2 separate regions of the Homo sapiens genome follow, and region 2 is reported to be linked to region 1. The links are microRNA targets in miRTarBase. Many come from high-throughput screens and were not tested one by one. Region 1 holds a microRNA gene; the other region holds the end of a gene's coding sequence.

What was found. Region 1 holds the annotated microRNA hsa-miR-503-5p (UAGCAGCGGGAACAGUUCUGCAG, at 2,768-2,790, opposite strand). A microRNA usually pairs through its seed, bases 2 to 8, with sites in the 3' UTR of a target mRNA and lowers its output. Matches are read on the target gene's strand: a 7mer-m8 pairs with bases 2 to 8, a 7mer-A1 pairs with bases 2 to 7 and ends in A, and an 8mer does both.
Region 2: the mRNA of CACUL1 is a reported target of hsa-miR-503-5p. Seed matches in the 3' UTR shown: 7mer-A1 at 2,778-2,784 and 7mer-A1 at 2,107-2,113.

The regions. Positions count from the first base shown.
Region 1 is chrX:134,543,604-134,547,898 of GRCh38, forward strand. It overlaps MIR503 (microRNA 503), which reads right to left and starts at 2,795; the gene lies at 2,725-2,795. MIR503HG (MIR503 host gene) reads right to left here and starts at 3,027. Exons shown (of 3, transcript NR_024607.1): 1 at 2,949-3,027; 2 at 1,111-1,194; 3 at 1-396. It overlaps MIR424 (microRNA 424), which reads right to left and starts at 3,108; the gene lies at 3,011-3,108.
Region 2 is chr10:118,683,157-118,687,451 of GRCh38, forward strand. CACUL1 (CDK2 associated cullin domain 1) reads right to left here. Exons shown (of 9, transcript NM_153810.5): 8 at 3,442-3,485; 9 at 1-3,012. The coding sequence ends at 2,972. Among named protein-coding and RNA genes, the nearest start is that of CACUL1, 70 kb to the right of the region's middle.

The DNA.
Region 1 (4,295 bases):
ACTCATTTGGCGGGAAAACCAAATTTACATGCCAATTGGAACAAAGAAGTGTGGGTATGGGGGAACAGCGGGGGGAAAGAAATGGTGGGAGAGGATTCCTTGGACTTACAGATCATAAAACATTTCCCAATAACATTTTTAAAGGATGTATAATATTACACTGAGTGATTGATTATATATTACCCTTCTATTTGGGACACTTGGGTGGTTTTCAATGCCTAGAGTTTTAAAATGCATATAAATTACAGCCTTTGAGAGATGATTGTATTTTCTTGAAACAGGAGTCTTCTGTGTCCAGGTCCCCGCCAACAGTGTTGATGTAGTGTTCCTTTGTTGGGGGGAAAAAAAATCAGTACTGCTAACTGGAGATGCTGGATGCCTTCAAGAAAAACATTCCTGTGATTTAAATTTTTAAAAAATTATGTTCAATTCTGGTTTATCAAACAACCTGGGTATCTTGTCTCACAACTTACCGAAATGTCGAATTTTAGATTTAGAGTTAGACTAAGCTCTTCCTAGTTTAAGGGCCACGTCTGTCTAATAAACTTTATACAATGCCACGTGCACGCAGCTTCCTCACTAACAAATAACATGTGTTGGGGAAAAAATGAGAAAATAGTGGAAAGGTGCCTCCTTGGAGGTGGTAACATCGGGTCAATTAATCAGCTGAGTATAAATTGATTCACTTTATACAAGTCTCCCACACATTATGATGCACATTTAGCAACGCTGAAAAACAATTTAAAAGAATACCTTAGGGAGTTGTTAAAGAGAATTTATAGTCTGGAACGAATTGCAATCTTCTTAATTGACACAGAAATGTTTGGCTAAAATATTGCTTTATTCACATTTTTGTCCTTGGAGGAAAATCTAGGCACACTGCAACTTGGATCGTGTAAATAAAGGTACAAGGAATGTTTTAAGTCAGAAAAGGGCATCACGCAGTCAGGGGGCTGTGTGGACGAGCTCAATTTCGATGCATCTCGGGAGACCCGGGCAAAAGGCCGCTTGGATTCCGGGAGGCAACGCCCCCAAGTCAGGATCCCTTGCTCGCCGCCCCCAACCGGTCAGGATCCCTGGCTCGCGTCCCCAACCGGTTCCGTGTCTCACCTGGGTCCTGCAGGCGTCCACTGGAGGAAGCCGGATGGCGCGGGCTTGGTCTTTCAGGAAGGCTGGCTGGCACCGGGCTTCCTTCTGGCTCCAGGGGGAACCGTACAGGACGGGGAGAAAGGGGGAAGCTGGTGAGAGGCAGAAGGGGCGTCACAAGGTGGCTCTCCCACCCCCAAGTGCAAAGGCAGGCGGATGCGGGGACCTGTTCGCCGTTTGAGCCTGGAGATTGCGGGCCTGAGGGGCCCTGCGCTGGCCGGCCGGGGCGAGGCGGGAGCAGAATGGGGATTTCTAGGCCGCCGGGTCGGGCTGGTGGGCGGCGCCCCGGGAGCCTGAGGGTCCCCGCCGGCCCGGGAGGGACCCGAGCCGCCCCCGCGCACTGCCCCGGCGCAAGGGAGTCTGGGAGAGCCAGCGTCTCGGGCCGCTGAACCCGACTCCCAGCTCTAGACTTCGGAACCCCGGCCCCACCCCAAACTGGGAAACTTCTAGGGGCCCACTCCTGGCCCCGGGAAGCCCAGTTCCAGGCAGCCCATTCAGACCAGAGGAGTTTGGGTGTCTTTTTTTTTTCTTTAAGGTGACAAAAAGTGTGGGAAAGATTCCACACCTCCCTCCCCACGCCCGCCAATGGTCCTTTACCTGTCCATGTTTCAGATTAAATAATTAGCTCAAGAGATTTGCACAGAAAGCGAATTAGCCCTTTTCTAGTCAGACTGTTAAGCTCTCAGGCGGGCAACTCGGAACCCCGTTTCCTCACCGAAGGCTCAGGAGGCCAGCCCAGTGAGGGATGGAGGTGGCTTTAGAGGGCGACAGTTGTGCAGCACTCATGAGCAACAGTGCCCAGGACTTTTGAAGTCACGAAGGGCTCCTGAAATCGACAGCTCAGGTCCCGCCCCTGGGGCGACAAAGGAGTCTTGGGGGCGTGCCGCCGGGTTGGAATTGTGGTAGCAGATTTTTGGGGGAGGAGGGCGCAAAGCAGCTAGAAACGCACATCCTCATTCTGGAACTATCCCAAGGCCCCCATGCTTCTCAGCAGGCCTCGGGCTCAGATTGGGCGGGTTGGAGCCTTCCACCCCACCTTGGGTTCACCCGCCCGCAAGGCCTCGCGCCTCACCCGATCCTTCTAGAGTGCTGGAGCTCCACGGAGCCTCCCTAACCCCCCAGCAGCGGGGAAGGGAGGGCGAGGGAGTGGGGAAGAGGCCCGTTATTTTGATCTTTCCTGAATTCTTAAGTCCCTTCCATACCCAGGACATGAGCGCGTTTACCAGGAACCGCAGAGAGGTGTAAAGACTTCTTGCAGCTGCTCACCCTTCCTCTCCCCTTACTCCTTTTCCAGTCCTCCCCACCCCCCAGCATTTCGTGGGTGGGGACTGAAGATAGGTTTTCTTCGTTGTCCTGTGGGTGGTATTCTGATTGGGAAGGGATTTTTTTCAATTGTTTACATTCTACCTGAGCAGGGAAAGGGGGTGCCAAAATGAAGCATCATTCACGTCCAGTCACATATGCAGAGACGGGGCAAACGTTTGATGCAATCTTGGGTCTCGCTGCTCCCGGGGCCGACACCGCAGGCGATGGCCTAAGACTTACCTGCTGGGTAGGCCCGAACGGCAGTCCCAGACTTACCCTGGCAGCGGAAACAATACCCCAGAGCACCGATCGCTCACTGCAGAACTGTTCCCGCTGCTAGGGCACGGCTGAGCGCGGGCACCGCGTCTCTCCTCGACTCGCACCGCCTATGCGCCCCAGCCTAGCCAGGAATACTGCCCTCCCCGGACTACAGCCCTGCTGCGTGGACAAGGGCGAGGACCCGCCGGAAACAGAGACGCGAGCCCCCGCCCACCTACCTGCTCCTGAGCCGGCCTCGCGGGGAGCGGGCACCTGGTGGCAGGAACACGCGTCCGGCAGACCCCACCTTCTACCTTCCCCACGAGGGGGTATAGCAGCGCCTCACGTTTTGAACCATTTAGAACACTTCAAAACATGAATTGCTGCTGTATCCCCTCGGAGTCAATGAAGGGGGATCGATCTGGGGGTACCTGCGGGTGAATAAAGACTGGATGACTGAAGGAAGCCCCGCCCCACCCCCTGGCAAGGAATAGGGCAAAACTTATGACTAGGCCACTTCACTCCAAGTTAAGGTACTTCTTATAACTTCACCATTTGATTTCCAGGAGCTGCAGGTGGAGCCGAAAGTGTGGCTCTCAATTTTTTCCCCTGAGGATGAATCTTGGAACAACGTAGTGGGTGAAAAGCAGAGCGATGGGGGATACGAATTAGTGTGGAAGAGAATCTAATTACTTCTGAAGGTAGACGAATAAGGTTAAGTAGAGGCAATTGGACATCTGGATCATTCTTGCCAGTTTCAAAGTCTTGGTGAAACTTCTTCCTGCTGCATATTACAAGTCTCATTCATTGTCCCCATTAAAAAAAAACAAAAAACGAAACAAAAAAACAACCTTTATTGGAAATGGACTCAGATGACTGAAAGAAAATAACCAAAACCTCACCGGTAGCTTCAGCTGATTCTTACACTATCGTTGCGACATATACATCTATCTTTAAAAGCATTAGATGTCCTAACTCACTGCTAGTGTTTTTATTCTTAAACACCCCAGCTGAGTTATTTTAAAGAGCTCCAAACAATGACAGAGAACTTTCTGTAGATGAAATACCAGTTTACATATTAAACTGGTTACTCAAACTTATTTATAATTTATACCTATCAATGTCATCTATCAAAACATAAATCAAAAAGTTTAAATACTTGATGTCAAGTCGCTCCTTCCTGTTTCAAGCAGCTCCACAGAAACTTTCATGTCCTGAAATGGCCGGCACTGCGCATACTCCTTAATGATTAACTCATTAGATACCACTTTTTCCTTTTTAAAATGGACACATATTAGCAACAAGTCACATGCATGCCCTCTTTTTGTTTGAATACAATATTCAATTAAGCATTAAAAAAAAAACCCACTCTGAAATCCTCAATCACAAACCTAAAAGTTAAAACAACAAAATCAGCACTAACTGTAATGGTTTTGAAAGTTAAATACATTTCAGCACAAGTAATAGACATTTAAATTATCCAACTGTAAGTATCTTGTTACACTTACAAATTAAGTCGGTTTTTCAAAACCAGTACAATGAATGTTAAGTGTCCTATTTATTAGTTAATAAAATGTGCAGAGTAT
Region 2 (4,295 bases), not on the chromosome of region 1:
TTACTTTTACATGTCATTTTTTCAAGATGACTGACCCGGCTTTCCTTTTAAGGAGCCAGTTTCAGGCTGCACATACATACTAGACAGTTGAAGCAAATCAGCCATTGACTAACCAGACAACCAGCCTGCATGTACGGTTTTGTATCTTCAATGATTTGGGCCTTTAGTGATGTGGTACAAAACCCAGTATGTAATTGGGGTAGAAAAACCATATACTGTACTGGCAAGAATACAAAAAAAAAAAAAAAAAAGGCCAGGTGCAGTGGCTCACACCTATAATCCCAGCACTTTGGGAGGCCGAGGTGGGTGGATCACTTGAGGTCAGGAGTTCAAGACCAGCCTGACCAACATGGTGAAACCCCGTCTCTACTAAAAACAAAATACAAAAAGTAGCCGGGCGTAGTGGCACGTGCCTGTAATTCCAGCTACTCAGGAGGCCGAGGCAGGAGAATCACTTGAACCCAGGAGGCAGAGGTTGCAGTGAGCTGAGATTGCACCACTGCACTCCAGCCTGGGTGAGAGAGTGAGACTCCATCTCAAAAACAAAATATAAGAAAACAGAAGAAAACAGTTTCTGGCAAACAGTCAATATAAAATGAGAGGAAGGAGGAGGAAATCTTATTTCCTCTCATACTGCAAACTCACTCAGAATTTTTTAGAATCCCAATAAATAAGCAAAGTCTATTTCAACTTAAACAGGTCCTTCAAACTGTGATGTGCCTCAAGGGGCCAAGATGATTAACAGCCAGGACATGTAGACTGGGAGACTATGTACAACCTTTCTATAGTGACTTCCAGTCAAGGTTTTGTTGTATTAAGAGCTGACCCATAGCCAGCTGCAGTCACTGTGCAAAAATTTAGAGAAACTAAATTTTGCAAACTTTACTTTGCCCACTTTTTATTAATACATACATAGTAAAAAGAATATATTTCTCCATGAACTTAATAATGCAAAAGCATCCAAAGATTTTAATGCCAATTCACATTATACTGTGATGCTTTTATAGGGAAAGTTCTTTTGTAAAAGAATGCTCTCTCCCAGAAAAAGCATTTGGGTATATTATTAGGATACTGAAGAATTTCTCCACATTTAGAAACATTCCAATTTTATTCCTTTCAGAAAAATTATTAATACCACTCACTCAGACTTCAGTTCTAGGTGTGATTGGTAAGCCTGAAGCAAGCATTCCATTGAGAAAAGTAAAATGTGAATGTCATGATGAATGGAATTCTCCTTGATACTAGAATGTTACCAGTGTAGCAACTTAAACTGTCCAGGTCATAGTGAGAGCCTGTCTATGTTCTTACAGTAATTCAGTGTTCATCGATGCAATCCAGGATGCTCACAGAGTGAATTGAGTCCAATTAAAGTCCACAAAATCCACGAACTCTGGTTAAGTACTTTAAAAAATAAATCTGACAACCTTTATCTTTACTTCTCTGTATAACAGTTTTACAAATCAAGGACTTCAATTATTGGGTGACTTACTTGCTCCCAATATCCCACTTCTAACTCTCCCACCCACACCACTCCCCCCAAAAAATAAACTGAATTGGCAGAGGCAGCTGTATGAAGAACCTGCAGAGCAGACATGCGACAGCATCCCTGGGATGTTTCTTTTCCCCTCAAGTTCTCTGAAGAGGTAAATACTATTAGTCTGATGTTGCCTAGTAGAGAAGCCTATGCTCAATTAAGATTCAAGCAAAATTGAGAAGAAAAGTATTTTTCTCTTGCCACATCTATTTTTCTTGGGCTTTCAACAACAGCTAGAATAAGCTTCAGAAACTTTTATGATGGACTAAAAAGCACTGTGGATGTGGAGAAACAGAAATATAGCTTTGCCACAGCTGGAAGGGAGCCTTAGGACAGCAGTGCTACTTCTTCCCTATCACACTCAAATATAATGTTCAAATGACAGACTTTTTTTAAGTAATTATCTCATTCATTTAAAATGAAGTGATCAGGAACCCCACACCACTGTGTATTTGGACTTAATAACTGTATCTGCTTCCTAGAGCATCGCAGGAAGTAGCTCTCAATAATACTAAGGGAAGCTTCCGTGCTAAAGTACCGCCCATCCCTAAACTAGAGTACTGCCAATACTATAGCAGCTGGTGACAGACATCGTGTTAAGTGGCACAGGGAATGGAAATGCTCTAGGAGAGTTGGTCCCCAACATTAATATGAATATGCTCTGGTGAACCAGGGGAAAATCCGACCCATGTGCAAAAGGTTTCTATTTTCCCACTTAATTAGCATCCTGCTACAGGGCCACACCTGCCATCTTGGTGGGTGAGTTTAGATACCATACACTTCTCCAGGAGGAGTTTGACAACATGGTCACACAGTTGCAAAGTGCACAAAGCTCAAGGCACAGAGTAGAAGAAAGTTGTGAACTGATGGGGGAAAGTTCTAGCAAAAGCAGAGTTAGCATTTTCCTTTAACAAGACTTTCTAATGCTAAACAAAGACCAACTCTTTTAAAAGGGGTTGTTTTGGTTGTGGGTGAAAAATACTGTACTGTAATGATCTGCTTGGTTTTAAAGCAAAAGAGATCCTGACATGTGAAACCAATACACCAAAATGCCAAGTCCACAAATGAACAAAACAAGTGCTTAAAAAAAAAATTCTTCTGCTCTTATATTTTTGGAGGAAGCTGCTGATTTTGGCTGTCAGATTTCACTTAGAAATGGTCACTTTCTGAGATGCTTTTTCCTCACAGAATCTGTAGATAAACTCATTAAAAGATTGTCCCATTTCAAAATCACCCCCAAGTCTAGCAGCAACGTTTTTTTTTTTTTTAGTTTTTGTTTTAAAATTACAAACCAAGTAAGAAGTCCAACATCCTCTTCCATGAACAGCTTTGTGACAGAGCTCCTGAGTGTGTGCAGCCCCCACTGTGCTCTGAATACAGTCTCTGCAGCTCCAGTGTGTCCTCTTTTCAGGAAGGAAAGCATATTCAATACATTCACTATCTGTACCCCCTGGAACTTGCACATGCTGACGAGCTATCTGAAAAAACATCAGAATAGGAAAAAGTATGAAGAGCAGACAGCATTTGATAACAGCAGGAATCTGTTTATTCAACACACATTTCTCACTCCTCTCCCAACTCCCCAAAAAAGGCTTAAAAAAAATCCTCAAAACCATGTGGGGTGGAGGGAAGTAAAAGGGGACTGAGAACCTAAGGAACTGGGACTGGGCTACGATGTCATCCCAGTAGAAACTAAAGAACCTGGTGGCCTCTTTCCAATGCCCTGAGAACCATCGCTACCAGCTGGAGCTGCCACAGCATGCAAAGCATCCTGACCTTGATTACAAGCAGTGCCTTATGAGAACAACATGGGTATCATCAAATTCAATGCACTGTTATCACAGTGCATTAATATGGCTGCTTTACATCACAGAACCATCAAGATGGGAAGGAACATCATTACTTACTATAAGCCAACTCATCCCCAGCTCTCTTCCGGGACTGGTCACCCCTGGGGATAAGAAGAGGCAGTCAACAAAACTGACTTCACATCAAAACAGGAGGAAAGGATCAACATATTTGATAATAAAAGTATAGCAGACATTTCAGTTCTAACCAAACCTATTTAAAAATACATATTAAACATCTTAGAATCCTGATGTACCTCACTATGCTTTCTGCAGATGGAAGAACATGAGCCTTTACCTGTATTAACCAGTTCATCCTCAAACACCTATGAAAGTTCTAATTCCACTTTAGAGTTAAGAAAATAGAGGTTCTGACTAGGCCCTAAGCTACCTACAAATCCTATTTTTGTGTCTCCAGCTTCTCAGACAATAACAGAAATGACTCAAATGCTTAGGTAATGAGAAATAATAATCACTACTAGCCTTTCTTCCTCAGCATTTATAAGTTGATTTCTTCCTGAAACACGATTTTTTTCTCTTTAGGTTTCAGTAATGCCACAGCACACATTCCTGACCTTACCTCACCCTGTCTGCCATCCTTTTGAGGTCTCCTTTGCTGGCTCTACCCAGCCCTCTGTCGCTGGTCATCTTTTCTTCTCCACGTGTAGTCCAGGATGGTGATCATACACTCTCTCCACAGGCCAGAGGCTCCCATATCTACATCTCCAACTCTGCCTTCCTCTCTACGCTTCAGATCTACAGGTCCAACTCCTCATCACCATGTCCATTTGGATGATTTATATACACTGGCAAGTTTACCATGACCAGAATACAATGCTGACTCCAATCCATCCCCATTCCTTCTTCAATCTTCCAGCTTGATCACTCAACCCAAAATCCTTGGTCATCCTCTC